6 linked regions of the Homo sapiens genome follow. The protein of the gene in region 2 purifies or fractionates together with the protein of the main gene of each other region. This does not show direct contact. Each region holds a gene or a part of one and is shown on either strand. Other genes may lie near its edges.

What was found.
Region 1: the proteins of SIRT5 (region 2) and ALDH18A1 purify together in Homo sapiens (affinity purification with mass spectrometry, with the first as the bait; one study listed by BioGRID). This does not show direct contact.
Region 3: the proteins of SIRT5 (region 2) and IDH2 purify together in Homo sapiens (affinity purification with western blotting, with the first as the bait; one study listed by BioGRID). This does not show direct contact.
Region 4: the proteins of SIRT5 (region 2) and CS purify together in Homo sapiens (affinity purification with mass spectrometry, with the first as the bait; one study listed by BioGRID). This does not show direct contact.
Region 5: the proteins of SIRT5 (region 2) and GPALPP1 purify together in Homo sapiens (co-immunoprecipitation; one large-scale study listed by IntAct). This does not show direct contact.
Region 6: the proteins of SIRT5 (region 2) and UNK purify together in Homo sapiens (co-immunoprecipitation; one large-scale study listed by IntAct). This does not show direct contact.

The regions. Positions count from the first base shown.
Region 1 is NC_000010.11:95,646,146-95,650,956, forward strand, and holds part of ALDH18A1 (delta-1-pyrroline-5-carboxylate synthase), read right to left. Parts: intron 1-4,811. UniProt on the Homo sapiens protein: Bifunctional enzyme that converts glutamate to glutamate 5-semialdehyde, an intermediate in the biosynthesis of proline, ornithine and arginine.
Region 2 is NC_000006.12:13,590,732-13,595,542, reverse strand, and holds part of SIRT5 (NAD-dependent protein deacylase sirtuin-5, mitochondrial), read right to left. Parts: intron 3,875-4,811; coding exon 3,649-3,874; intron 67-3,648; coding exon 1-66. UniProt on the Homo sapiens protein: NAD-dependent lysine demalonylase, desuccinylase and deglutarylase that specifically removes malonyl, succinyl and glutaryl groups on target proteins.
Region 3 is NC_000015.10:90,088,004-90,092,814, reverse strand, and holds part of IDH2 (isocitrate dehydrogenase [NADP], mitochondrial isoform 1 precursor), read left to right. Parts: intron 1-1,170; coding exon 1,171-1,262; intron 1,263-2,170; coding exon 2,171-2,336; intron 2,337-4,067; coding exon 4,068-4,228; intron 4,229-4,312; coding exon 4,313-4,456; intron 4,457-4,811. UniProt on the Homo sapiens protein: Plays a role in intermediary metabolism and energy production. It may tightly associate or interact with the pyruvate dehydrogenase complex.
Region 4 is NC_000012.12:56,279,458-56,284,268, forward strand, and holds part of CS (citrate synthase, mitochondrial precursor), read right to left. Parts: intron 4,401-4,811; coding exon 4,335-4,400; intron 3,535-4,334; coding exon 3,403-3,534; intron 3,152-3,402; coding exon 2,963-3,151; intron 1-2,962. UniProt on the Homo sapiens protein: Key enzyme of the Krebs tricarboxylic acid cycle which catalyzes the synthesis of citrate from acetyl coenzyme A and oxaloacetate.
Region 5 is NC_000013.11:45,027,538-45,032,116, reverse strand, and holds the end of GPALPP1 (GPALPP motifs-containing protein 1), read right to left. Parts: intron 4,333-4,579; coding exon 4,114-4,332; 3' UTR 1,812-4,113; downstream 1-1,811.
Region 6 is NC_000017.11:75,786,839-75,791,649, forward strand, and holds part of UNK (RING finger protein unkempt homolog), read left to right. Parts: exon of another isoform or gene 1-70; intron 71-3,948; exon of another isoform or gene 3,949-4,811. UniProt on the Homo sapiens protein: Sequence-specific RNA-binding protein which plays an important role in the establishment and maintenance of the early morphology of cortical neurons during embryonic development.

The sequences.
Region 1 (4,811 bases), on a different chromosome or scaffold from region 2:
TTCTGGCTTTCTCTCCTGTCTGCTGGAGGGCCTATCCTGACCTGGAAGGGTGGTGAGCATGGGTGGAGCAGCCTGAGAGGGTACCTCAGGAACACAGGCAGTGGCATGCATGTCTGTCCAGGTGATCAAATGGTAGAAGCCAATCAGAATCCAGCAGCCAGGCTAGCATGAAGGAGGCTAACCCACAGTCTGTATCAGGAGAAGAGGGTGGGTCGCATGGTTCAGTGCCAGGTAGTCAAGGGTCATTCTGGCTGGAGACAATAGGGTAACAGCAGTAGATAAGGCCTGTTAGGGTTCAAGAGGAGGTCACCACTAACAACAAGGTTTCATGCAGTTGACTCAGTCAAATCCAGTAGGTTCTAGCACAAAGGAGAGCTTCAGGGGACTCAGGGCTTGTTGGGTTTCCTATTGAACAACGCCTTTTACCTTCCAAGGCTGACCCTACCTTTCTTGGGGGTATTTTTTTAATGTTCTACAATGTATTATACTTGTTAGGGTCCATATTGAAAACTGAGAAGGCCTTGATTAGTTAGGAAAATTCAAGGCTTCTAGAGAAATAATTGTTTCCCATCTTCTAAGGAACTTTTAGGCTCTAAGTTCCAAAGAAAATCTGTCCCCTCTTAGTAGGTATGAGGGCATACTGAAGTGTATGTGTGTACAGATGTGGCATGGTGGGGGATGGGAGGGGTTGTCCATGTTCTTCTTAAGGGCCACGGATTATACTCTTACCACTCTGACAGAGGAGAACCCTTTACTTCTTCAGCATCAGAATCCTTATGCCCAGTAACCAATGAGGCTGTGTTCCAGGCCTCAACAAGAAGGGACCCAGACATGACTACTCTTTTTCTCTCTGGCCTTCCATTGCCTTCTCTGTTTATCTCCACAAGCGTTCTCATTTTGCCTTTCTTTTCTTTTTTTTTCCCTCTGCTATTCTGCTTATCATGGTCAGTGAAAGAGCTCCACGTTCCAGAAAAATCCAAATCCCCAAATTCAAAAACCTAGGGAAACAATTAGAAAGTGCCTCCTTCTGTGAATGAGTCTAATGAGGATAAGTATCAATAAAAATACTGAAGTGAACACTTACTATATACCAGGAGTTGTGCTAAGTATTCATACACCTTCTACAGGAGTAAAAAGGACAAGTGTTGGCTCTGGAGCCAGACTGCCTGAGTGAAATTTCAACCCCTTCACTTACTTGCTGTCTCCTTAACTATCTCATAAGGTTGGTAGGGTGGATAAAACAAGTTCATGCATGAACAGAGATTGGCACAAAATACTCAATGAATATTAACTGGTACTGTAAAAAAAGTGTTACTTACTGTGACATGACATATATATCCATGGTCCCTGGCTTATAACTCTAATAATCCTTTTTACAGTCTTTTGTTATAATGTTGGTGTAAGGAAACAGAATCTCTCTGGTATTCTCCTGAACTCCTTTCACCTACTCAAGGCAGGACTCTAATTTGATTGTGGGTTGTAAGACCCTCAGTCCAGAGAGGGTCCTGCCCCATACCTTGGAGGAAGAAATATTGCACAGGAAGACCAAGACAAAATCTGAACAGACAGGCCTTGCTGGGTTACCCCACTCAGTCTATTAGTATCAGGTCACATTCTTTTTGTTCAATCACATTTCGACACAGTTGCCCATGCTTCAATCATGCCTATCCAATAAGTCTCCATAAGAGGTCCAAGGGGACAAGGTTCGGAGAGCTTCCAGATGGCTGAACATGTGGAGGTTCCTGGAGGGTGGCGTGCCCCGGAAGGGCATGGAAGATCTGTGCCTCTTACCACACACCTCACCCTACATATCTCTTCATCTGTTTCCTTTGTAATAAATTGGTAAATCTAAGTGTTTCCCTGAGTTCTCTGCATCACTCTAGCAAATCAATCAAGCCCAAAGAGGGTACTGTGGGAACCCCAACTTGAAGCCAGTCAGTCAGAAGTTCCAGAAGCCTGGACTCAGGACTACTAGGAAGATGGGGATGATCTTGAGGGACTGAGCCCTCAACCTGTGGGCTGTCCTCAGGGAGACAGTGTCAGAATTGAATTGGAGGATACCCAACTGATGTCCACTGCAACCCCGTACATTTGGTCACAGAAGTCTTCTGTGTTGATTGTTGTTATGGAGTGAGAGCAGAGGAAAAATAGTTTGAGCTTTTCCATATTCTACCTTCATCATCATCATCATCATCATCATCATCATCATCATCATCATCTTACTGAATTCTCATGAATTAAGCCTCATAAGTTAGGTATTATTATGAGTTCATTATTATTATTATCCCCATTTTATAAATAAGGAAACTGATGCTCAGAGTAACTGAGTAATTTACCAGCATTGCCAGATTACAAAAATGGCCACAATCCTTTTGCAGCTTCTCCATTAACAGGTGAGTCAATCTTCCAAACTTCTTAAATTTGAGCTGGCCCCGTAACTTGCTTTGACAAATGTGGCAGAAGGAACAGTGCATAAATTCTGAGTTTACATCTCAAGAGGACTTGTAGCTACCATGCTTCCTGTTCTGGGGACCCTGCAAGCATCATGCAAAGCAGCAATGAACAGCCTGCTGGAGAATGAGAAGCCACAGGGAATGTACATGATGTATCATCCCAGCAGAGGCCCCTTCATCCCCAACAATCAGCCCTAAGTCAATCTGAGACCTGACACAGACACAGAACCACTGTGCAGCTGAGCCCAGTCCAAAATACCATCCCACAGAATTGTGACCTAAACAGACAGTTGTTTTAAGCTACGAAGTTACTTCATAAGCAGAAGGGCTAGTTTTAAAAACCCAGGAACTGGTTCCAAAACCTGAACTTTCAGCCCTTATACTCTACATTAATAGGAAAGAGATTTTTCTGTCTAATGACAAGCTTGATTAGTTGATTGGCAAGTCATCTTGCAATGAAGCTTGGAAATGGACTACTGATAAGATTTAGGTGATATCAAGGAGCTAGCCAACTCAAAACATCACAAACAGCCTTTCAACAAATGATGCTGGAACAACTAGTATTAAAAGTTGAAAGATGAACATTGACCTAAACCTCACACCTTATACAAAAATTAACTCAAAATAGATCACGAAGTTGGGTGCAGTGGCTCACACCTGTAATTCCTGCAGGTTGGGAGGTCAAGGTGGGAGGATCTTTTGAGCCCAGAAGTTCGAGACCAGCCAGAGCAACATAGACTCCATTTTTACAGATTTTTTTTTTTTTTTTTTTTTGAAACGGAGTCTCACTCTGTCACCCAGGCTAGAGTGCAGTGGCGCTATCTTGGCTCACTGCAAGCTCCTCCTCCCGGGTTAATGCCATTCTCCTGCCTCAGCCTCCCAAGCAGCTGGGACTACAGGCACCTGCCACCACACCCGGCTAATTTTTTGTGTTTTTTAGTACAGACGGGGTTTCACTGTGTTAGTCAGGATGGTCTCGATATCCTGACCTCGTGATCTGCCCACCTCGGCCTCCCAAAGTGCTGGGATTACAGGCGTGAGCCATCAGGCCCAACCAAAAAACTTTTTAAAAAATTAAATGTGCCAAGACTGGGCAACATGGCAAAACCCTGTCTCAACAAAAAATATAAAAATTAGCTGGATATGGTGGTGCACGCCTATAGTCCCAGCTACTTGGGAGGCTGAGGCAGGAGAATCGCTTGAGCCTGGGACGTTGAGGCTGCAGTGAGTAATGATTGCACCACTGCTCTCTAGCCTGGGTGACAGAGTGACACCCTGTCTCAAAAAATAAAAAAAAAAAACAAAGAAAAAAATTAGCCAGCTGTGGTGGTGCAACCCATAGTCCTAGCTACCTGGGAGGCTGACATAGGAGGATCACTTGAGCCCTGGAGGTTGAGGCTGCAGTGAGCCTTGATCGTGCCACTATGCTCTAGCCCTGGGTAACAACAGAGCAAGATCTTGTCTCAAGAAAACAAAAAAAAAATGGATCATGGATTTAAGTATAAAATATAAAACTATCGAACTTTCGGGAAAAAAACATACGAGAAAATCTTCAGAATACGGGGTTATACAAAGAGTTCTTAGACTTGACCCCAAAAGTACAATCCATAAAAACAAAAGCTGATAAATTTGACGTCATCAAAAGAAAAACTTTTCCTATATGAAAGACCCTCTTAAGAGAATAAAATGACAAGCTATGAGACTGGGAGAAAACATTTGCAAACCACCTATCCAACAAAGGACTAATACCTGGAAGTGCTATGGTTTGGATATGGTTTGGCCCTTCCAAGTCTCAGGTTGAAATCTGATCCCCAGTGTTGGAGGTGGGGCCTGGTAGGAAGTGTTTGAATTACGGGGGCAGATCCCTGATGAACAGCCTGGTGCCAGTCTCAGAGGGAATGCATGAGTCCTCACTCTTAGTTCCCATGAGACATGGTTGTTAAAAAGAGCCTGGCCCTTTCTTTTCTCTCTCTTGCTTCCTCTCTGGCCATCTGATTTTGCACACAACAGCTCCCCTTCATCCTCTTCCAAGAGCAGAAGCAGCCTGAGGCATTCACCCAATGCAGTTTTTGGTGCCATGCTTTTTGTGCAGCCTGCAGAACCATGACAAATAAACCTCTTTTCTTTATACATTACCCAGCCTCAGATATTCCTTTATAGCAATAAAAATGGACTAAGACAGGAAGATATAGAGAATTCTCAAAATTCAATAGTTTAAAAAAAAAACAACTTTCCAATTCAAACTGAGCTGAAGGCCAGGTGTGGAGGCTCATGCCTATAATCCCAGGACTTTGGGAGGCTGAGGTGGGGGGATCACTTGAGGTCAGGAGTTTGACACCAGCCTGGCCAACATGGTAA
Region 2 (4,811 bases):
AAATTGGACTCTTGTAATTCTCAGCCACAACTCCACAAGAGGTACATCGAGTTTTAAATAAGCTACCTGAAAAATACATATGAAGCAAATCCAGAATTTAGTATAATCAAGAGCAACCTTCTCCATGTCTAAAAGGGTATAAGATACTTTATTTTTCACACTTCATTTCATGTTTTGGTCTCACCCAGTTACCCAGGCTGGAGTGTAGCAGTACGATCATAGCTCACTGCAGCTTCCAACTCATGGGCTCAAGCGATCCTCCCACCTTTGCCTCCTGAGCAGCTGGGACTATAGGTGTGCACCGCCACACTGAGCCATACTTCATTTTAGCAAATGGGCCTACCCTAGCTTTAGCTTTCATGGGAAACAGAGGCATGCAGTACTCTTAAGCCAGTCAAGAGCATATGCCCTCAAGGACTTTATAATCTGGAGGAAAAATAAATAACTCCATGACTAATGTGCCATCAGATGACCTTGGAGTGGTGTTCAAGTGGGCAGAAGTTGCCAATAGGGTAGAGGGAGCTCAACCTAAATCTAAGGGCGTGATTTATTGACATGACTGACAAAGGTTCAATGGCGTGGGATATGTTTACAAAATTTTAACTTCGATTTCAGAAAGCTTGAATCTTTTATACAAAAGCACCTCAATAAATAAGTAATCAACTAATAAGTGAAAAAAGTAATTGTTAATACTAACCACCACTTATTGAGCTGAAGCAATCATGGTGGCCACAGTTTATGAAATGGGTACCAGGCAACTGGTGCCGTGCAGAGCACTTTCAACCCTAGTGGACATGCGCTGCTCCGTCCTGCCCACCAGTCCTTCCTTGGGGAGCACCATCCCTGCTCTCTCGCATGCTGAGCCAATAGGGCTGTGGGTCACATCCCAAATACAAGCTCAGCCACATGCTGCGCACGGCCCCCATGTGGTGTCCATCCCTCTGCAGTCGTGTTTGGTCAGAAGGGTGGGCGTGTGGACCAAGCAAGCCTACCCAGAGGTTTATTTTCTGAGCAGGTGGCTGAGCTGGAGCCGTCGGAGGCACTCTCCCTTGGCGCGTGGAGACAGATCAATTGCAGAGAGAGAAGGGAGGCCACCTCAAAGAGTGAGCAAAGCTGAAAGAAGGAGGGGGACAGGGGCCGGGAGGAAAGATGACATAAGCTGCACCACTAGGCTCCTCAGTTTTGTGAGCCAATAAACCTACTTTGTCAGTTTTAGCATAGACATTTTTCCCCATTTTCACATCTCTGAAATTCAGATGTGTCCTACAATTGCTACTGGCCAGATGAGACTGTAACATCATCATCATGCTTGCACAGACTTGTTGAAGGAGAACACTGAAAAATGGGGTGACTTTGTTGTTATTCTCCGTGGCCTGACCGGGCAGATTCAGCCCCTGGATCCTTCCGCCAACAAACCCTTCAAGGGCCACTTCAGGAAGGAAAGCAAGTTTTGGCTGTTGTCTACAGCCTTTCCACTGATGCCTTTTGGTAAGAACATGTCAGGCCCAATAGCGAACTTGCGGAAGGTGTGTCAGGAGCTTGGATGAGAATCCCAGCTATAACAGAGGGGCATTCTCTCAGGAAACGCTGCATCATCCATCTCCCGAGACACAGAGCATGAAACTGCATGGAAAACACAGACATCCGTGCTCTGAGTCACTCAGAATCATTTAGAAGAGCTAGATAATGAGAAATATTTGGACCAGTTTATCATACTCATACTTTATGTATGCCTGGAAAGATATAATTTCTAAAGAACGTGTCTAAGTTTTAACAAGCTCTTTCTCTAAGTATAGAATAATTCTAAGGGATAATAAAATAGTATATCATGGTTTAGGCAGATTATATTCTAAATGCCACATTAAAAACATGATGCATCTTAAAAAAAACCCTTCATCAGACTGAAGATGCCATTGATTTTTTTTAACCTAAGTTAGAAGAGAGTTCTCATCGTTTGAAATTTTAAAAAGTCCTGACTAACACACATATATGATCTTATTTAATCCCGACAACAATTCTATAAGATAGGCATTGTCATCTCGGTTTTATGCTGATGACATAGCCCACATTCTGACACTGCAGGGAAATCAGCAGAGGCACATGGAAAGTGGCTCAGACCCAGCAGATGTAGGTACCAAAAAGATGCTCGGTTAATAGGTGGCTGGCTGTTCCTGATGAACAAAAGACAGACACAGTCGAAATGAGTAGTGCCTCGCTTTCCTTATCAGGGTGATCTAAGTAAAAGCAGGCAGCTTCACCACACACACGCAAAAACAAACACCCCCGACTGGTGCACTGCTTCTGGAAATGCTACACTTAGAAATGCATTTTTGGCTGGCACAGTGGCTCAAGCCTGTAATCCCAAAACTTTAGGAGGCTGAGGAGGGAGGACTGCTTGAGGCCAAGAGTTTGAGACCAGCCTGGACAACATGGTGAGACACTCTCCACAAAAATTTTAAAAAGTAGCTGGGCATGGTGGCATGTGCCTGTAGTCCCAGCTACTCTGGAGGCTGAGGTGGGAGGATCCCTTGAGGCCAGGAGTTCAAGGCTGCAATGAGCTATGATCAGGCTACTGCACCCCAGCCTGGGCAAGAGTGAAACCCCCATTGCTAAAAAAAAAAAAAAAATTAAATTAAATTAAATTAAGAGAAATAAATGCTTAAAAAATAAGAAATGCATTCCTTGGATTTGAATGCAGACTCTTTAAATGCAAATGGCCTTGGGGGAAACCCTAGTTTGCCCATTATGACTGTGGACAAGTGGATGTTTTAGATTTGTGGTGACAGCAAAGAAGGGAGGAGCCAGAAGACAAGAGTGAAGGGGTGAGGGGTTACCCAGGACAGAGGAAGGAGCCCAGAGGGACCCAAGACAAACTCCACCGACATCATAGGCTTGGTGGGTTTGGTGCAGTGTCCAGCACTGAGCTGGCAGCTCCCTGAGGCTCCAGGGCAGGGCAGAAGCACAGCCTCAGTGGGGTCCACCGACATCACAGGCTTGGTGGGCTTGGTGCAGTGTCCAGCACTGAGCTGGCAGCTCTCTGAGGCTCCAGGGCGGGGCAGAAGCACAGCCTCAGTGGGGAGTGCCCACCAGGATGAAGGGGGAGTGACAGGAGACCCCAAGATGCTGCAGTCTGCTCCTGCTCAAGCCCCAGCTGTCCAATGGGCCAGGCCTCTTATTCCTCAGCTCATTGAGGCCATTGTCTCACAGTACCGTGCCCCTCCACAGAGGAAAGGGTCACGCAGCTGTGCACCCCAGCGTTCCTCCAGTATAAAAAGCACGCCAGCCACCTGGGCTCATGGGAAAATGCAGATTCTGATTCAGTGGGGCCTATGGGGCCTGAGATTCTGCATTTTTAACAAGTTCTTGGGGGACGCCAAATGTTGCTGGCTCTTAGACCACCCTGAGCAGCGAGGATGGAGGAACTGCTAAGTGAATAATGTTAGTGGGTCAGGGGCTCCTCCCATGGCCAAAGGCAGCTGCCCAGGTGCCACGGGACACTAACATGTCCCCAAAGGAAATGCCACAGCATCCTATAGGACAGGACGGATGTCCAGCAGGGAGGGAGGGAAGGCACCAGAGGTGATGCTGAAACAGCAGGACAGGTGTTTTAAAGCTGGTTCCCTGAATGGGAGGCTGGGGGTCTCTCACCATGGATCTCCAGAAGGTTCTTGGTGCCAGCCTTGCGGTGCAGCTCATCGATGTTCTGGGTGATGACCACGACTCGCCGGCCCTGCTTGCCCAGCCGGGTCTCACACTCGGCTATGGCGCGGTGCCCGGCGTTGGGCTCCTTGCTCCCCATGACCTCCCGCCGGTAGTGGTAGAACTCCCACACCCGGGACGGGTTGTGGGCAAAGGCCAGGGGAGTCGCCAGGTCCTGGGAGTGGGAGAGGAGGCAGGAGTGAGGGAGGCAGAGACAGCCAGGATGCTGAACCCTGGGGCACAGGCCCTTCCTCCCTAAGGCAGAGACAGGCAGCGTCGGGAAGGTGCAGGCTGGAGATGGCAGCACTATGTTCAAACAACATGGCAGATGCCAGGCAGGGTCTGGGTACCAGCCTACGTCCCCATCCTGGGACTGCCCAGGGACCTTGGAGAAATCAGTCAATTTCCTTAGTGACAAAACAGGGATGATGCAACCTGTCCCATCTACCTCCCAAGTAAGTAGTGAAGATGAAGTAAAGGAACATGCAGGAAGGTATTTTGGGTCGAATCCCCTTTTTCATGCAGCTCTAAAACACACGAAGTGGATCTCATTTTGACCTACACCCAGGGAAAGCATGAAATGCAAAATGCCCATTGAGCTCTAATGACCATGGGTGAGAAACTCAGTTTTTGTAACTATAGCTATGGCTATACACACACACACAAGTACACATCTACATACACGCACATCTACACACAACTAAACACACACAACTCAATATACATACACACTACACATATCTACACACACACAACTGCACACACATACACACAACTAGACACACACACAACTACATATACTACACACACTAAAGATACACACACAACTACACACATCTACATCCACACAACTATACACACAACTAAACATACAACTACACACACAAACTAAACACACACAACTACACACATCTACATATAAACTGCACACACATAGCTAAACACACATATGCTGCTACACAAACTACACACGTCTACATACACACACAACTGCACACATGCACTACACACAGCTAAACACACACACAACTACACACACACACAACTACATACACACAACTAAACATATACACACATCTACATACACACAACTGTACATACACACAACTACA
Region 3 (4,811 bases), on a different chromosome or scaffold from region 2:
CTTGAGGTCAGGAGTTTGAGACCAGCCTGGCCAACATGGTGAAACCCTGTCTCTACTAAAAATACAAAAAATTAGCCAGGTGTTGTGGTGCACACCTGAAATCCCCGCTACTTGGGAGGCTGAGGCCCGAGAATCACTTGAACTCGGGAGGCGGAGGTTGCAGTGGGCTGAGATCATGCCACTGCACTCCCACCCTGGGGGACAATAGCGAAACTTCGTCTCAGAAAAAAAAAAAATTAAAAATAGCTGGGTGTGGTGGCATGCGCCTGTAGTCCCAGCTACTTGGGAGGCTGAGGTCAGAGGATCACTTGAAGCCAGGAAGTCAATGCTGCAGTAAGCTATGATGGCATCAGTGCATTCCAGCCTGACCAATGGAACAGGACCCTGCCAAGAAAGAGAGAGAGAAAGGGAGGAAGGAACGAAAGGAAGGAAGGAAGGAAAGAAAGGAAAGGAAGGAAAGAAAGGAAAGGAAGTAAGTAAGGATGGATGGATCCAGGTGCTCTAAACCAGCAGTTCCCAAAGTTTTTGGCACCAGGGGCCAGTTTCATGGAAGACAATTTTTCCACGGGTGGCAGGGTGGTGGGCAGCGGGGATGGTTTTGGGATGAGTCAAGTGCATTACATTTATTGTGCACTTTATTTCTATTATTATTACATTGTAATATATAATGAAAAAATTATATAGCTCACCATAATGTACAATCGGGGGGTCCTGAGCTTGCTTTCCTGCAACTAGACAGTCCCATCTGGAGGTGCTGGAAGACAGTGACAGATCATCAGGCATTAGATTCTCATAAGGAGTATGCAACCTAGATCCCTCGTGTGCGCAGTTCCCAGGCATGAGCTCAGGTGGTAGTAGTGCTCACTCACCTGCAGCTCTCCTCCTGCTGTGTGGCCCAGTTCCCAACAGTCCGTGGACCTGCACTAAAGGCTGTGGCCTGGTCTGCTGACCTCTCTCCAGAGCCCACGGTACTAGTCCATGGCCTGGGAGTTGGGGACCCCTGCTCTAAGCAGTGAGGGAGCTGATTTGCAGACGGGGGAGTGGACACCGGGCAGCTGGAGCCCTGGCTTTCTGCCACTGTCTCCTGGTGAAGGGCGGGCCTGGCTGGGAGGAGAGGGCCCCCCTCCAGCCTCCCCAGGGGCATGATGCGCTGTGTGTCCCTGCTTCTAGATGCCGACAAAAGGATCAAGGTGGCGAAGCCCGTGGTGGAGATGGATGGTGATGAGATGACCCGTATTATCTGGCAGTTCATCAAGGAGAAGGTAGTGCCCCCTCCTGAAGTGGGTGGCTCTCCAGGTGGGCTGGCCAGGGATTGTTCTGTCCCACAGGGTCTTCTGGACTGCAGGTCCCTAGGACCCCCCCGTTGTCCTGGTAGGCAGCAGCAGCTCTGTTTCTCTCCCTCTGTCTACCCTTCTTTCACATCTGGTCCACTAATTGTTCAGAAGTCGTCAGGCGGGGGCCTGTCCCCAGCAGTCCGTGTTGTGATGGTGCCAGATCCCACACGTTCTGTCAACTTTGAGAAGCTTCAAGGTTAATCCTGTATCATTTCCATCTTGATCCCCTACGTTTTGCCTCACTTCTTGAAAAGGAGTGAAAAGGGAACAGGGCTGGTGTGTAGGGCAGTGACCCAGCCTGCAGTTGTGACGAGCCACCATGGCAAAGGGGTCCCAGAGTGGCCGCTTGGCTTCTCCAAAGTTGCCGTGGTCTATGTATGTCCAGGAGAGCATGTAGTCCTTGTGAAGGCCCCACACTGTGTGTGCGTTCATGGGACAAAGGTTGAGAACTGTCACTTCCAACTGTAAGATCTCAAAGCACTTGAGAAGAGGAAACCAGTTGTATAGAGAAATCTAGATGTACTTGGGGTTGGGGTTTGGCTGAGTTGATGGGCCATGTGAGGGGGGCACACAGGCACAGTGGAGGAAGAACCCTCCAAAAGACTGCGGCCTGGCCTGCCAACCTCTCTCCAAAGCCCCAGCCTCTGCCAGCTCTGGCCAGGCCCCACTGAGAAATGGCTGACTCCAGCTTTCTGCTGCGCCCCTCCACTGGCCTTCACTCATCCCTGTTTTGACTGACTGTCCCCTGCCATGGCCTGCAGACTTCTTATCCTGCCCTTTGTTGTCATGTCCCTGAGTCACTGGGGTGACGCCTTGCTCTGGCCCTCTGTCCCCAGCTCATCCTGCCCCACGTGGACATCCAGCTAAAGTATTTTGACCTCGGGCTCCCAAACCGTGACCAGACTGATGACCAGGTCACCATTGACTCTGCACTGGCCACCCAGAAGTACAGTGTGGCTGTCAAGTGTGCCACCATCACCCCTGATGAGGCCCGTGTGGAAGGTGCGAGGGTGTGGAGGTGGGCGGGCCAGGGAGGGTCACAGGCTTCTCCCACCGGCCTCTCCAGACTTGGGGTGGGGCAGTTGGCCATGTCACTCATCTCGGGACTGGGAGGTTGGGAGGCTCCAGAGCTGGGGCTTTCCTGAGGCCAACTGCACCTGAGGCCAGTCTCCCTGTGTGTGCCTGGTGGACAGTGGGGCCTCAGAGGTCACCTTTGATGAGGCTGGGGCAGGCGTGGGTAAGGGGCTGGCCTCAGGTTCCACGGTTAGGGCACAGCAGAGCTGAGAACAGAATCCATGTCTTCCATCTCCCAGGCCAGTGGTGTTTCTGCTTCACTCTGGCTCTGACAGTGGTAGGTGTCATCGGTGACAGGGCTGAGGAGGAGGAGGAGGAGGAAGGTAATGCTGATGTGGTCACAGTAAGGATGGCTTCTTTGGGCAGTAGTCCATTCTGGCGTGGACAGTCTTGCAGGCAGGTATGCAGAGAGATTGTGCAGAGGAGTGCTGTGTGTAAGGCCTGTGTCCTTCAGAGCCTCAGCAGCCTCTGGGGAACATTGCTGTTGCCCTCCTGCCACTGGCTTGGCCTTGCAGGTCTGCCTCTGTCCCCATGGTCATGCAGGGTCACTGAGAGGTGCCCCCACCAGGCCTAGACTGGCTTCTGGTCCTTGGCTGTTGGGGCCGCTCTCGAGGGTTCCATGAAGTCACAGCAGTGTGTGTGCAGAGGGGCCAGGTTTGGATAATTCGAGAAAGGATGGTTGAGGAGTTTTCTGAGCTCTCTCTTCCTACTTTCCACAGTTGGAGGGAGCTGGCGGAAAGTACTCGAGATACATCTGCAAATTCCCCAGGCCTGCCCCTGTCCTGCAGGTCATGCCTGACCCACAGCACTGGGATCATTTGAGTGTTGAGCTCTTCATTTCACCTGAACCTTGGGAGTTGTGTATCCCCATTTATGGACAAGGCAGGAGAGGGTCACAGCCTTAGGAACTGGGGTGGCGTTGGGGCCAGGACCGGAGCATGTGGAGTGGGCAGTGTGTTGTCAGGCTTCGTCAGACAAGTCCTTCCCCCGGACTGTACTCCCTCCATGTGTGATGTGGGAATCATAATGGCCAACAGAGCACTTAGCATGGACCGGGCACCGTTCTAGGCCCTTTACACACGAGCTCATTTCGTCCTCACGACAACACTTAGGCTGGTTATTTTTCCAGTAATTTTTTTTTACAGCTTTGGTTGAGCCACTTTTGTAAGCCTCACCATTAAAACTGGCAGACTTGCTGGGCATGGTGGCTCACACCTGTAATCCCAGCACTTTGGGAAGCCGAGGCGGGTGGATCACCTGAGGTTGGGAGGTCGAGACCAGCCTGACCAACATGGAGAAACCCCATCTCTCCTAAAAATACAAAATTAGCTTGGTGTGGTGTCACATGCCTGTAATTCCAGCTGCTCGGGAGGCTGAGGCAGGAGAACCGCTTGAACCCAGGAGGCAGAGGTTGTGGTGAGCCGAGATCGCGCCATTGCACTCCAGCCTGGGCAATAGGAGCAAAACTCTGTCTCAAAAAAAAAAAAAAAAAAAAAAAAATTGGCAGACTCCAGAGCCCACACATTTGCACTCTAGACTCTACTGCCTTCCTCATGAAGAATTTTAGGACCCCCGTCTGGCTGTGTTGTTGCTTGGGGTTCAAATTCTGGTTGAAAGATGGCGGCTGCAGTGGGACCACTATTATCTCTGTCCTCACAGAGTTCAAGCTGAAGAAGATGTGGAAAAGTCCCAATGGAACTATCCGGAACATCCTGGGGGGGACTGTCTTCCGGGAGCCCATCATCTGCAAAAACATCCCACGCCTAGTCCCTGGCTGGACCAAGCCCATCACCATTGGCAGGCACGCCCATGGCGACCAGGTAGGCCAGGGTGGAGAGGGGATCCACTGACCTGGGCACCCCCCGACTGGAGCTCCTCGCCTAGCCATCCTCTTGTCTCTGCAGTACAAGGCCACAGACTTTGTGGCAGACCGGGCCGGCACTTTCAAAATGGTCTTCACCCCAAAAGATGGCAGTGGTGTCAAGGAGTGGGAAGTGTACAACTTCCCCGCAGGCGGCGTGGGCATGGGCATGTACAACACCGACGAGGTGAGGCTGGCTTGGGCATCCTGGGCCCCTCCTCTCCCAGCTTGTCTCTTCATCTCTGTCTCGTGGCTTTCCTTTCTTCTGTAATGGCCTCATTCTTAGGCCACAAAGAGGCAGAAATGGCCACCAGGGCTGGGCATGGTGGCTGACACTTGTAATCCCGGCATTTTGGGAGGCCAAGGCAGGATTGCTTGAGACCAGAAGTTTGAGACCAGCCTGGGCAACAGTGAGACCCCATCTCTTGAAACAAAAAGAAAAGAAAAGAAAAGAAAAGAAATGGCCACGAGCAGCTCCAGGCGTACTCCTGCCTGCTTGGCTACCCTATCAGAAGAGAATGCCTCTTTATCCCCAGTTCCAG
Region 4 (4,811 bases), on a different chromosome or scaffold from region 2:
GAAACCCCGTCTCTATTAAAAACACAAGGCCAGGCGCGGTGGCTCACGCCTGTAATCCCAGCACTTTTGGAGGCTGAGGCGGGTGGATCACGAGGTCAGGAGATCGAGACAATCCTGGCTAACACGGTGAAACCCCGACTCTACTAAAAATACAAAAAATTAGCCAGGCATGGTGGCGGGTGCCTGTAGTCCCAACTACTCGGGAGGCTGAGGCAGGAGAATTGCTTGAACCAGGGAGGCGGAGCTTGCAATCAGCTGAGATCGCACCACTGCACTCCAGCCTGGGCAACAGAGCGAGACTCCATCTCAAAAAAAAAACCAAAAAAAAACAAAACAAAAGCAAAAAAGCAAAAACCAAAAATTAGCCAGGCGTGGTGGTGCGCACCTGTAGTCCCAGCTACCGGGGAGGCTGAGGCAGGAGAATCGCTTGAACCCAGGAGGCAGAGGTTGTGGTGAGCTGAGATTGTGTCACTGCACTCCAGCCTGGGCAACAGAGCGAGACTCCATCTCAAAAAACAAAACAAAACAAACAAACAAAAAGGCCCAGGGTGGTGGCTCACGCCTATAATCCCAGCACTTTGGGGAAGAGGTGGGCGAATCACCTGAGGTCAGGAGTTCTGGACCAGCCGTTCTAGACCAGCCTAGCCAACATGGTGAAACTCTATTAAAAAGACAAGGCCAGGCGTGGTGGCTTAAGCCTGTAATCCCAGCACTTTGGGAGGCCGAGGTGGGCAGATCACGAGGTCAGAGGTTCGAGACCAGCCTGGCCAACATAGTGAAACCCTGTCTCTACTAAAAATACAAAAAGTTAGCTGGGTGTGGTGGTGTGCGCCTGTAATCCTAACTACTCGGGAGGCTGAGGCAGGAGAATTGTGTGAACCCAGGAGGTGGAGGTTGCAGTGAGCTGAGATCGTGCCATTGCACTCCAACCTGGGTGACAGTGCAAGACACCGTCTCCCAAAAAAAACAAAAAAAAAAAACAAAAAAATTAGCCAGGAGTGGTGGTGTGCGCCTGTAATGCCAGCTAGACATGGTGGCATGTGCCTGTAGTCCTTGTTACTTGGGAGGCTGAGGCAGGAGGATCACTTGAGTCCAGGAGTTCAAGGTTACAGTGAGCTATGATCATGCCACTGCATCCTGGCCTGGGTGATTAGAGAGAGACCTATTTCTAAAAAAATAAAAATAAAAATGGCTGGGCACGGTGGTTCACATGCCATTTCACTCCAGCCTGGGTGACACAGCGAGACTCCATCTCAAAAAAATAAATAAATAAATAAAATGAAAAACAAAATATTAAGATTATATGACCTTTTGTACCTGCTAATGTGTGCAGGTACAAATATACACATTCATACCACCTAAAGTGTTTATAAATAAGCCTTTATAAATAAATGCTTTATGTGGTGTGAATGTGTATATTTTGCATCATTCTGATACCAACTCCCCAATGCCAACCAAGTTAATATCAATTTTAAATGCTCTCTGTCTTCCTCAACTGCAAACACAATTCTCTACACACAGTTGGTGCCAAATTAATATTGACCAACTAAATCAATCTAGATTTGCCAAGGACCCAAGGTGGTTGCATCAGAGCAGTGGGTCATGCTCTTCTGTGTCTTGCACCACAGTGAACTCTTTAGGGCCTTCCTGGTGGCTGGCACCTCCTGGCCAAAAATCATTTAATGTACCTGCTTTGTAAAAAGAAAATTTTCTGTTCCTATACTACCTATCTCCAAATAAGGAACAAAAGAAAATGGTACATTCTCCTGTAAACCTAGCCAGATCATTTGTACTTTTACCCAGTGTTTCTGAGTTTGTGGGGTACTAGAAGAGGATGGAAGGAATTATGTACTATGCATTGGGATAAGAAACAATCTTTCCATACCCCAACCAGCGTTGTAAACTATTAAGGACACTTTTCATTTTCAGAGAATAAAGCTCATTTGTTTCTGGATCTGGAGCCTACTCCAAGGATACTAACCACTCTCCCACTCCTGATGGGTATCTTAGGTTGGCTAGCCGAGAACATGACTGACTGGCATTAGTCCTCCTAGACTCCAGAGTTGCAATTGCTGTTCTCCCAACTTGTAAGATTTCTCAAAGTTTTCTGTATTTGAAGAAGATAGTGAGGGAAAGTGACCCTCTGGTGCTAGCATGAGACTGCTCTGTGAAACCTTCCTCAGGGACCCTGCAGTTAAGTCACATCCTTTTCTTTTCTTGTTTTCTCCTTTTTTATGTACAGATAGGATCTCACTATGTTGCCCAGGCTGATCTCAAACTCCTGGCCTTAAGCAATCCTCCCACCTCAGCATCATGACTCACTGGGATTATAGGTGTGAGCCACCTACCTAGGTCTCTTTTCCGTTTCAACAGCCATGTGTACATACCTCTGTTACAGCAAGACTATGGAATTTTTTTTTAGATGGAGTCTCACTCTGTTGCCCAGGCTGGAGTGCAGTGGTGCGATCTCGGCTCACTGAAACCTCCACCTCCCAGGTTCAAGTGATTCTTCTGCCTCAGCCTCCTGAGTAGGTGGGATTACAGGCGCCCGGCATCACGCCTGGCTAATTTTTGTATTTTTAGTAGAGATGGGGTTTCACCATATTGGCCAGACTAGTCTTGAACTCCTGACCTCGTGATCTGCCCGCCTTGGCCTCCCCAAGTGCTGGGATTATAGGCATGAGCCACTGTGCCCGGCCGACTATGGAATTTTAATAATTTCTTTTTTCTGCACGTGTGTCAGCCTAACCAAACAAACAGTCCTGGTGATAGAAACCATGCTCTACTTAGCTTTGTAATTCCAACAACTGACAAAAAACAAGCCTCCAATGAAAATCTGTTAAGTTAGTTTCTGATTAACTCAGAGGTAATTTTTCTAAAGATTCTGTATTTTTTCCCTCCCTTCACACTCAAGTCCTTTGAATCCCCATCACACACCGATCACCCCACCCAAATTTCCTACCTCCCAGTACTTGGTTCGGCTGATACCCTGTGCATATGCTCGGGCAAAGTTACTTTCACTGTTGAGGGCTGTAACAGCTGCACTGAGCTGAGACATGGGGTGTAGATTGGTGGGAAAGTTGTCCAGCATGGTGACCACATGGGAAGGCAGAGCTGCCCTCTTTGCCCACTCTTTTGAGAGCCAAGATACCTGTGGAAAAAGAGACAGTGCTCAGAACACCAGCAAGGACAAGGAAGGAGAAAAATAAAAAAGGACAGCAACATCTGAGTAAAGAAAACCCAAGAGAGGTCAACCCAATCCATTTATACAGCAGAACTCTGCTGATTCCTTCCCTTCACTACGCATCTCTATAAATGCCGGATCAGCATTAAGTGTCTGAGATTAGAGAAAGGCAATGAAGAAGGGGAATGAGAAGAGCTAATAATATCCTTCTGCTTTACCTGTTCCTCTGTTGGGATATGTCCAGTTACCAGCAGCCAAAATAAGCCCTCAGGCAGGGGTTCTTCCCCACCCTTAGCCTTGGGTAGCAGTTTCTGGCATTCAGGGATACTAAAGCCTCGGAAACGGATGCCCTTGAGAGAGGAGAGAGAGAATTACAACTCAAGTTTATAGCCTAGAAGTCACACGACTGGTCTTACTCATCAGACCTTACAACAAGTTAGAGTAGAACTTTTTATGTTAATTATTATTTCTGTAGAGGTGGGGTCTTGCTATGTTGCTCAGACTGGTCCCGATCTTCTGGCCTCACGCAATGCTCCACCTTGGCCTCCAAAAGTGCTAGGATTACAGGGGCAAGCCATCATGCCTAGCCCAGAATACAATTTTTAATTTTCTTTTTTTTTGAGACGGAGTCTCACACTGTCGCCCAGGCTGGAGTGCAGTGGTGCGATCTCGGCTCACTGCAAACTCCGCCTCCTGGGTTCACGCCATTCTCCTGCCTCAGCCTCCCGAGTAGCTGGGACTACAGGTGCCTGCCACCATGCCCGGCTAATTTTGTGTGTTTTTAGTACAGACAGGGTTTCGCCGTGTTAGCCAGGACGGTCTCAACCTCCTGACCGCATGATCTGCCCGCCTCAGCCTCCCAAAGTGCTGGGATTACAGGTGTGAGCCACTGCGCCCAGTCCAGAACAGAACTTTAAATTAAGCTTAAATCTTCACATAACTTACCTCTGGTTTTGTACTTTTATTTTTACTAGTTGATATATTTAAAAGGTAAATTTGTTCTTCAATTATTCCATACATATGTCTTCTCTACCTTCCAATATATGAAGCTAGGTGCTCTGTTTTGTGCTTACCCTTACTGGTCTAATCCACGGTTTGCGTATTTGCACAAACTCAATGATTATTAGTAATTGACATGAAGATGTCTTACCTCATCAGGATCAAGAACTGATGTTTCATAGACCAATCCCTTCATGCCTCTCATGCCACCATACATCTAAAGAGGATGAAGAAAGAAGGAAAAAAAAAAGAGGCTGTGGCCAGTAATCAGAATGATTCAGACTAGAACTTGTTAGAGCTTCATGGGATCTGGGAGAGAAAATTTATTCTCAGACTTGTAAGACTTCATTTGGTGAGAGATGTCTGAGGAGTCAGCTTACTAAAGAATTAAACTTTGTGGCCAGGCACAGTGGCTGACACCTGTAATCCCAGCACTTTGGGAAGCCGAGGCAGGTGGATCACCTGAGGTCAGGAGTTTGAGACCAGCCTGGCCAACAGGGTGAAACCATGTCTCTACTAAAAATTAAAAAATTAGCGGGCATGGTGTATGTGCCTGTAATCCCAGCTACTTGGGAGGCTGAGGCAGGAGAATCGCTTGAACCCAGAAGGCAGAGATTGCAGTGAGCCA
Region 5 (4,579 bases), on a different chromosome or scaffold from region 2:
TTTACTTACCAGTAATGTGGTTACTATTTGAAGCATCTAAATCTATTGGAGATGACAATTTAGAGAGCTGGACAAAAATCATATAATTTCAAGTATAACAAACTTAAATGGCATATTCAATGGTAAGAACATTAAAAGTATCTGCTCCATTATATTAACTTAGTGTTGCTCTTTTTTTCTTCTTCATTTTTAAATTTCAAAAGAGGCCACATTCCTATGACACTTGGCCAAGAAATGTAGGAAATTAAAAAGTCCTTATTAAAATGTCTCCTGCCAGATGGAAAGGAGACTTGATTCAATTAGGCCTTTTGCATCTTTGGAAGTGGGGAGGGGATGAAATAAAGACACCTTTCCGTCCTGTGCAATAACTACTTTGTCCTTTTGTTGTCAATATTCTTGTATTGGGATTAGTCTCTCTGTGGGGCAAAACAACCTCTGAAACTGGCCTTACATTTTGTTAAAATTATCCTCAGGTTGGCACAAAAGAGCATTATCTCCAAGGCCAGTAAGGTAGTAACTCCTGGAAGCAATAGGCGGAAAGCAGAGGTTTCTCTCCTTCATGCCAAGGTCATGGTCACTCCAAAGGTGAGGGATGAAACAGTAAATATATAATACAGAAATATCCCTATTCTCTTTAAATGAGGAAAACAAAGAAAAGTAAGTATCCAAAGATAACAATTTTACTTTAAAAAATGCAAATTTCTCAAAAATATATGTTAAGAATTTACATAAGGAAGAGGAGCTACAAAATACTTTTTTCCTTTCATTGGGAAAAAATTATAACAAAATTAAATTAATGCAATGGAGACACTCTTGTACAAAATTTTGTGTTCAGAAAATACTGCTCATTAAAAATGACATTTTTAGTCAAAAGGTAGCTCTGTTCAATTTTGAGTACACAAGAAGCTTTTTCAATTTGCTTAGGAGAAAAATTCATCTATTTATTTACTTATTTATTTAGAGATGGAGTTTCACTCTTGTTGCCCAGGCTGGAATGCAATGGTGTGATCTTGGCTCACTGCAACCTCCGCCTCCTAGGTTCAAGCAATTATCCTGCTTCAGCCTCCTGAGTAGCTGGGATTACAGGCACCCGCCACCAGGCCCGACTAATTTTTATATTTTTAATAGAGACAGGATTTCACCATGTTGGTCAGGCTGGTCTTGAACTCCTGACCTCAGGTGATCCACCCACCTCGGCCTCCCAAAGTGCTGGGATTATAGGTATGAGCCACTGCGCCCAGCTAATTCATCTTTTTAATAGCAATGCTCCTTTAGTTTGCTATGGTTTACACTGATGCTATGGAAAAAATATACTGTACTGCTATTATTAGAGGAAGAATAATTTGTACCATCATATAAACAATATACTCAATTTTCATAAAGCTTACATGAACTGGGAATCAGAATATTTTTCCATTAAAAATTTGTGTCTTGGCCAGGCATGGTGGCTGATGCCTGTAATCCCAGCATTTTGGGAGGCCGAGGCAGGTAGATCACCTGAGGTCTGGAGTTCGAGACCAGCCTGGAACAATATATAGTGAAACCCCATCTCTACTAAAAAATACAAAAATTAGCTGAGCATGGTGGTGCACGCCTGTAGTCCCAGCTACTTGGGACACTGAGGCAGGAGAATCGCTTGAACCCAGGAGGCGGAGGTTGCAGTAAGCTGAGATCACGCCACTCTACTCCAGCCTGGGTGACAGAGCAAGACTCCATCTCTCAAAAAAACAAAAATAAACAACAACAAAAATTTGTGTCTCATCAAAACTAGAATACTAGTGGAACAATTGGGATTAATCTGCAAGAAAATATAACTTATAGAATTGGCATTTATTTAACAATAGTTTAATAGTTTAAATAGAATTTCTCATCTTATAAATTTATCATCTTAAGAGGCAGTGCTTAAAGCATTACAAACTTATAATACTCCCAATTAGGGGGGTTATGATTATAAATTTTCCATTTCCATTTTTGTATTCAGGGATTATTAAATTTTTAAAAAAGGCTATTCATGACTGATATGACCCCCGTAAATTAGCTAAAAAAAAGATATGACCCCATAAATTAGCTACAAACTGTTAAGTACAGCATATAAATGGGTAAAGTAAAGTTGTCCCAAAGCAAAGTTCCAGGACTCAGAAAGCTTTGGTTGAGATCAGAGATTGAGTCTTACAGATTTCACAATGCTAACAGTTAATGGCATATCTTATCTTGATTGCCTCCCCTAGAAATACTAACTATTAAAGTTGGAAAAAGCAAAATAGTTTTTCCTTAGCACATGAGATAACCCAGAGATCTTTCTGACTTAAAAACAATTAAAAAATTAAATAACAAATAAAAAGCCCTGAGTGCTAAAACAAGCAAACTGATTACAAAACAGGCAAAACCCCATACCCTCTATTTTCAAGTAAATTTGTATTCACTGGCTGCAGTTTAAAGGGAAAAAACAACAAATTTCAAAGTCATGGATTTACAGTAAGGACTTGACACACTGACTCTAGGGCAGGTTAGGTATATTTCACAAGGAGGTCCAGGCTGTGGTAGAGATTTGGTGGTCAGTCCTGACCAGACCTTAGAGGGTACTTGTGAGACACCACAAAAATCAGGGGGAATGGAAGCCTCTTAAAATAATTATTTGAAGAAAAGCCCATAATTCCCCATACTTCCACAGAAGCTAAAGGCACATAGAATATTCTGTTCTACATAAAAAACATTCGTTTTATGTTTCCACATGACCTTAAAAGGACATACAGAACAAGGTAAATTTGTATGTTTTTTAAGATTAAAGTAATCTCTAATCTTAAGAAGCCAAAAACAAAGAAATAAAGATGGACAAAGAGTATTCTTCAACTTTTCTTCATTGCACAGGGAAATCCCCCTGAGGTAAGAATAAGAAAACTCAGTAAGTTGGAAAATATTTCTAAATTTAACATATTTTCCTCAAAAATCACATTTGAATATTGATATAGGTTTAATACAATTAAAAATCATAAAGATATTAAGAAGCAACCTCAGCTTTTATGTAATTTCTTTTCTTCTCTTTTTCTTTCTTTTTTGAGACAGAGTCTCTCGATCTTGTCACCTAGGCTAGAGTGCAGTGGCACGATCTCGGCTCACTGTAACCTCCACCTCCCGGGTTCAAGCAATTCTCCTGCCTCAGGCTCCCAAGTAGCTGAGATTACAGGCACGTGCCACCACACCTGGCTAATTTTTATATATATATATTTTTAATAGAGATGGGGTTTCACCATGTTGTTCAGGCTGGTCTCGAACTCCTGACCTCAGGTGATCCACCCGCCTCACCCTCCCAAAGTGCTGGGATTACAGGTGTGAGCCACTGGCCTCTTTTTTTTTTTCTAAAGAGACGAGGTCTCACTTTGTTGCCCAGACTGGAGTGCAATGGCACAATCACAGCTCACTGCTGCCTTGAATTCCTGGGCTCAAGGGATCCTCCCACCTCAGCCTGCTGAGTAGCTGGGACTATAGGTGTGCTCCACTGCACCTGGTTAGTTTTTTGTAGATACGGGGTCTCACCATCTTAAGCAGGCTGGTCTCAAACTACTGGGCTCAAGCGATCCTCTCACATTGGCCTCCCAAAGTGTTGGGATTACAGGCGTGAGCCACTGCACCCAGCTTTATGTAATTTCTTAATCACCATTCTGAACCCTTGTCAGATTGGGCTATGGATGAATATTGGAATAGTTTTGAACCTTAACTTATAGGGGACCTTTCTAAGCAACAAACATTTCCTAGTTGGGATTTTGTTTAACATACAAACAACCAGCAAGCCTTTCTTCATCTTTAATAAAGCATGCATATTTACTCAAGTATCAAACCACACCTTCCTTTGCCATTTCTCATAAGCTGAATTTTTATTTTAGCATTTTTAATAGCAATGCCCTATTAGGTTATTATGAGGGATTTTTCCAGTAAGACATATTTTTCATCCCACAAGGCTGACTTTTCAAAAATCACTGTTTACTTATAAAAATATAAAATTTTTAATCTATTATAAAAGGAAATAGATTTCAGCACAATTATTAAAGACAATAGAGTATTTAGAAAAGTTCACATTGATCAGTATTAAAATATACCTCACTGAAATATACTTACTTATAAAAACATATTGCCTTTGCCGTGTGAAAATCTGGTGTTTAGTTCTCTAGATTTTTTTATTAGGGCTTTTTTCTGAGCTTCATCAAACCGATTAACCTTGAGATCTTTATCACGGTCAAATGGTATTCTCTCTTGAGGCTTATTTTTGTCTTCAGCAGCCTTACTCTTTAACTTTTTATGATGTATGTCCATAAGAGATTCTGATCTTTTTGATTCCTGGAGAGAGCAGGAGAGCAGAAATAAAAACTATAGTTTGTATATAGATTATTGACAGAATATGACCATGAAACGGAATAGATAGTAATGGTGCACATTAAGGAGGGCTATTTACAAACCCCAGTAGTTTTTTTTTTTCCAAATCCAAGACAGCATTTATAAAGAAAATATGTAATGAAAAGCATTATGGTTATTTAAATACTAAACATCAGAGTACAAACCAAGAACGGGGTGTGAAAGAAAGAGC
Region 6 (4,811 bases), on a different chromosome or scaffold from region 2:
AAGAGCAAAACTCCGTCTCAAAAAACAGAAACAAAAACAAAAAAAAAGCCTGCCTTTCCATTCCTTGTGGGTAAGTATAGAGTAATGGGACCTGGCTCTTGAGGTGTCTTAGGAAATCAACAGGAGTAGGTGAAATAGCCAAGCTTGATGGGAGGTTGTAGGTGTTCTTATCTCTTTGTCTGTTCATATGTATGTGTGTTTTTATATTTGTATTTCCAAAAATCAGAGATAGAAATCAGTGGTCTTTCTTGCTAGACTTACTAGCATTCAGAAGCTGTGATGACCTGGAAAACTTCATCCCCTAGTCCTCCTAGGGCTGAGGTGCAGGGAGCATGAGGACACATATGATGGAACCAGCACACTTGCTGGCTCTGATTTTTCTTTTTCTTTTTTTTAAGATAGGGTCTCTGTCATCCAGGCTATAGTGCAGTGTCACCATCTCAGCTCACTGTAGCCTCGACCTCCCTGGCTCAAGTGATCCTCCCACCTCAGTCTCCTGAGTAGCTGGGACTACAGGCACACCTGGATACATTTTTTTGGTATTTTTTGTAGAGACGTGATTTTGCCATGTTGCCCAGCCTAGTCTCGAACTCCTGTGATCGAGCAGGCGCAAGCAATCTACTGTTGGGCCTTGGCCTCCCAAAGTGCTGGGAGGCCACCACACCCAGCTTTTTTTTTTTTTTTCCTCTTCTTAAAAGAGACATGGGCAGGGTGCGGTTGCTCACACCTGTAATCCCAGCACTTTGGGAGCCTGAGGTGGGTGGATCACTTGAGGTCAGGAGTTCGAGACCAACCTGGCCAACATGGAAACCCCGTCTCTACTAAAAATACAAAAAATTAGTCAGGCCTGGTGGCACACACCTGCAGTCCCAGCTACTCAGGAGGCTGAGGCAGGAGAATCGCTTGAACCCAGGAGGCAGAGGTTGCAGTGAGCAGAGATTGTGCCACTGCACTCCAACCTGGGTGACAGAGTGAGACTCGGTCCAAAAAAAAAAAAAAAGAGAGACGTGATCTCTCTGTGTTAACCAGGTGGACTTGAATTCCTGGGCTCAAGCAGTCCTGCCTTAGCCTCCTGAGTAGCTGGGACTACAGGCACATACCACCATACCTGCTTCCCTCCACCCCCATAAGGTGAATTCATTTATTGCCCTTGGGAGTTAGGGGGCGGGAGCATTTTGATTTTGATTTTAAATGAAAATTTGAGCTGCTTGGGAGGTAAACAGTGGGTACACATGGACATACGGAGTGGAATAATAATTGATCATTGATAATAATTGATCCCATTTTGAATACAGAGATAGACCCCTTTTGAATATTTGTAAGTTTTTGCCTGTCAATTTTTTCTTTTTTTTTTTTTTGGAGACAAAGTCTCACTCTGTTGCCCAAGCTGGAGTGCAGTGGCGTGATCTCAGTTTACTGCAACCTCCACCTCCCGGGTTTAAGCAATTCTCCTGCTTCAGCTTCCTAAGTAGCTGGGACTGCAGGCACACGCCACCATGGCTGGCTAATTTTTGTATTTTTAGTAGAGACAGGGTTTCACTGTGTTGGCCAGGCTGATCTCGAACTCCTAACCTCGTGATCCGCCCACCTTGGCCTCCCAAACTGCTGGGATTACAGGCGTGAGCCACTGTTCCCGTCTGCCTGTCAAATTTTTTACCTTTTTAAACTTTTATTTATTTATTTAGTTGTATTTTTAGTAGAGATGGGGTTTCACCATGTTGGTCAGGCTGGTCTTGAACTCCTGACCTCGTGATCTGCCCGCCTCGGCCTCCCAAAGTGCTGGGATTACAGGTGTGAGCCACCGCGCCCAGCCACTTTTATTTTTATTTTTAATTTTTTTTTTAAATTTATTTTTGTCACCCAGGTTGGTTGGACAGAGCAAGAGACAGGATCTTGCTCTGTCACCCAGGCTGGTGTACAGTGGCATGGGAAGGCGTGAGCCTGAGAAGGTGTGAGCCACCTCACCTGGACTTTCTTATACATTAATTAATTTTGTATAGTTTTATACCTGATGTTATTTGAAATTAGGTAACATGCTGTAGTCTTTGCAATAATCCAGAGACACTTGTGTGATAATTGAGTCTCACTCACCATAACAGTAATCTTGGCAAACACAGTTGAATACACTAAAAGCAAAAAATTATGTTGCCATTGGTTTCCCTTTCTTGCCCTTCATTCTTGTGCTGAAATTAAAGTTCTTAGAGTTTGAGCCCTCCTTTTCCTAAACCAAGAGGATTATTCATAACATAGTTTAAAGGATAATTTTGTTGATTTTTTTTTTCTAAACTCTTGAATAATCTTGCTTTAAGGGAAACTTTGGAATAATCCTTTCAGCAAATTGGTGTAGCAGGCACTTGTGCTGGACTTAGGAATCCAGTCCTTTTAGAAAACAGTTATGTCAGAAGTTCCTTTATTGTACAGCTCCAAGTATTTGCTTAGCACTTAGTAAAACGATAATGTATATGTATTATTATTCTTCCAATACAAGAACCACATGACCTCTTTTTTTTTTTCTGAGACCGAGTCTCGCTCTGTTGCCCTTGGCTGGAGTGCAGTGGCGCGATCTCGGCTCACTGCAAGCTCCGCCTCCTGGGTTCACGGCATTCTTCTGCCTCAGCCTCCCCAGTAGCTGGGAGTACAGGCGCCCGCCACCATGCCCAGCTAATTCTTTGTATTTTTAGTAGAGATGGGGTTTCACTGTGTTAGCCAGGATGGTCTCGATCTCCTGAACTCGTGATCTGCCCGTCTCGGCCTCCCAAAGTGCTGGGATTACAGGCATGAACCACTGCGCCTGGCCTGTGACCTCCTTTTACTAGACAGTTTGTCTTTTAATTTGACAAATAATGAATTTAATTCAGCTTTGTTTATAACATACTGTCTTGTATATTGGAAGAGTTTTATAAAAACGTTTAAGAATGAGGAGAACTTTTGTAGCAATCACGTCTCAAAATGTATCTACAAGTTTAGCTACCTTTTGGCTTTTTGCTGTATTAACAGTTATACTATTGAAAGTGTATAGCTGAGCAGGGCGTAGTAGCTCACATCTGTAATCCCAGCACTTTGGGAGGCTGAGGTGGGCGGATCATGAGGTCAGGAGTTCGAGACCAGCCTGGCCAACGTGGTAAAACCCCCGTCTCTACTAAAAATACAAAAAAATAGCTGGGCATGGTGGCGGGCGCCTGTAATCCCAGCTACTGAGGAGGCTGAGGCAGGAGAATCATTTGAACCTGGGAGGCGGAGGTTGCAGTGAGCCGAGATCGCGCCATTGCACTCCAGCCTGGGTGACAGGACTAGACTCCGTCTCAAACAAAAACAAAAAAATAAAATACAAAAATTAGCTGGGTGTGGTGGCACACACTGAGGCAGGAGAATTGCTTGAACCCAGGAGGCGGGGGTTGCAGTGAGCCGAGATCTCGCCACTGCCCTCCAGCCTGGACAACAGAGCCAGACTCCATCTCAAGGGAAAAAAAAAGTTTATTCTTGAAAGGTCACAGAAAAACTACCATCTGAAATATCCAGCTGGGTATGCTAGCTATAGTCCCAACTCGTTGGGAAGCTGAGGCAGGAGGATCACTTGAGCCCAGGAGTTCCAGACCAGCATGGGCAACATAGCAAGACCTCCTCTCTACTAAAAATTAAAAAAACGAGCCTGGTGTGGTGGTGTGCATCTGTGGTCCTGGATACTCAGGAGGCCGAGGTGGGAGGATCCCTGAGCCCAGGAGATAGAGGCTACAGTGAGCCAAGATTGTGTTACTGCACTCCAGCCTGGGTGACAGAGCAAGACCCTATCTGAAAAATAAATAAATAATTGGCTGGGCGTGGTGGCTCACGCCTGTAATCTTGACACTTTGGGAGGCCGAGGCGAGTGGATCACTTGAGGTCAGGAGTTCGGGACCAGCCTGGCCATCACGGCAAGACTCCATCTCTACTAAAAATACAAAAATTAGCTGGGCGTGGTGGTGCATGCCTGTAATCCCAGCTACTCGGGAGGCTGAGACAGGAGAATCGCTTGAACCCAGGAGGCGGAGGTTGCGGAGGTTGCAGTGAGCCGAGATCACACTACTACACTCCAGCCTGGGCAACAGAGCGAGACTCTGGCTTGAAAAAAATAATAAAATAAAAATAAATAAATAAATATTAAACTCTCCAAGTTTCTGACCTCATTGTTTTGACCCCATGAGAGGAAGTATACCTCAAAGACTAATCATGTCTTCATGCCTTCAACTGCAGTGACTGCAGTCGGTTCTCAGACTTCTTAATTTTAATGCCCTCATGTTAAAGGAAAATGAAATTCTAGTTTAGTGAAGGTTTGCAGGAGTTTTCTGGCCACTTGGTGATTTCTTATAGGTCGACAGAGAATAAATACTTTATAGCTTCATCTATCTAGGCATCATTTAAATTTAGGACTGGTTTCCTGGGCATCGAATTAAACAAAGATAATGTAGCAATACTTCCATAGATAACTCTTTTCAGGCAGTTTTGTCAGTTTATGTATTACGTAAATGTCATTAACTTCACTTGATTGCATCTGATTGTATTTTGGAAAATCCTGGACATGAACATGTATTTAAGTCATTATTGCAAATTACAATAAAATCGTGCATGCATTAGTAGAGTACTACTTGTTGCACAACAGAAGTCATTGGAAGCGTTGCTGAGCAACCTCAGTGAGAACGAGCTACATTACCAATAAACATTTCTGGATCTTATTTACTTGTTTATCAAGTAGAACTAATTTCTTGCAGGACAGAAATTAGGAGCTCATTGTAGCCTTCATTTAATCCCACAAAATCCCCGTTAAGTGTTAAGTG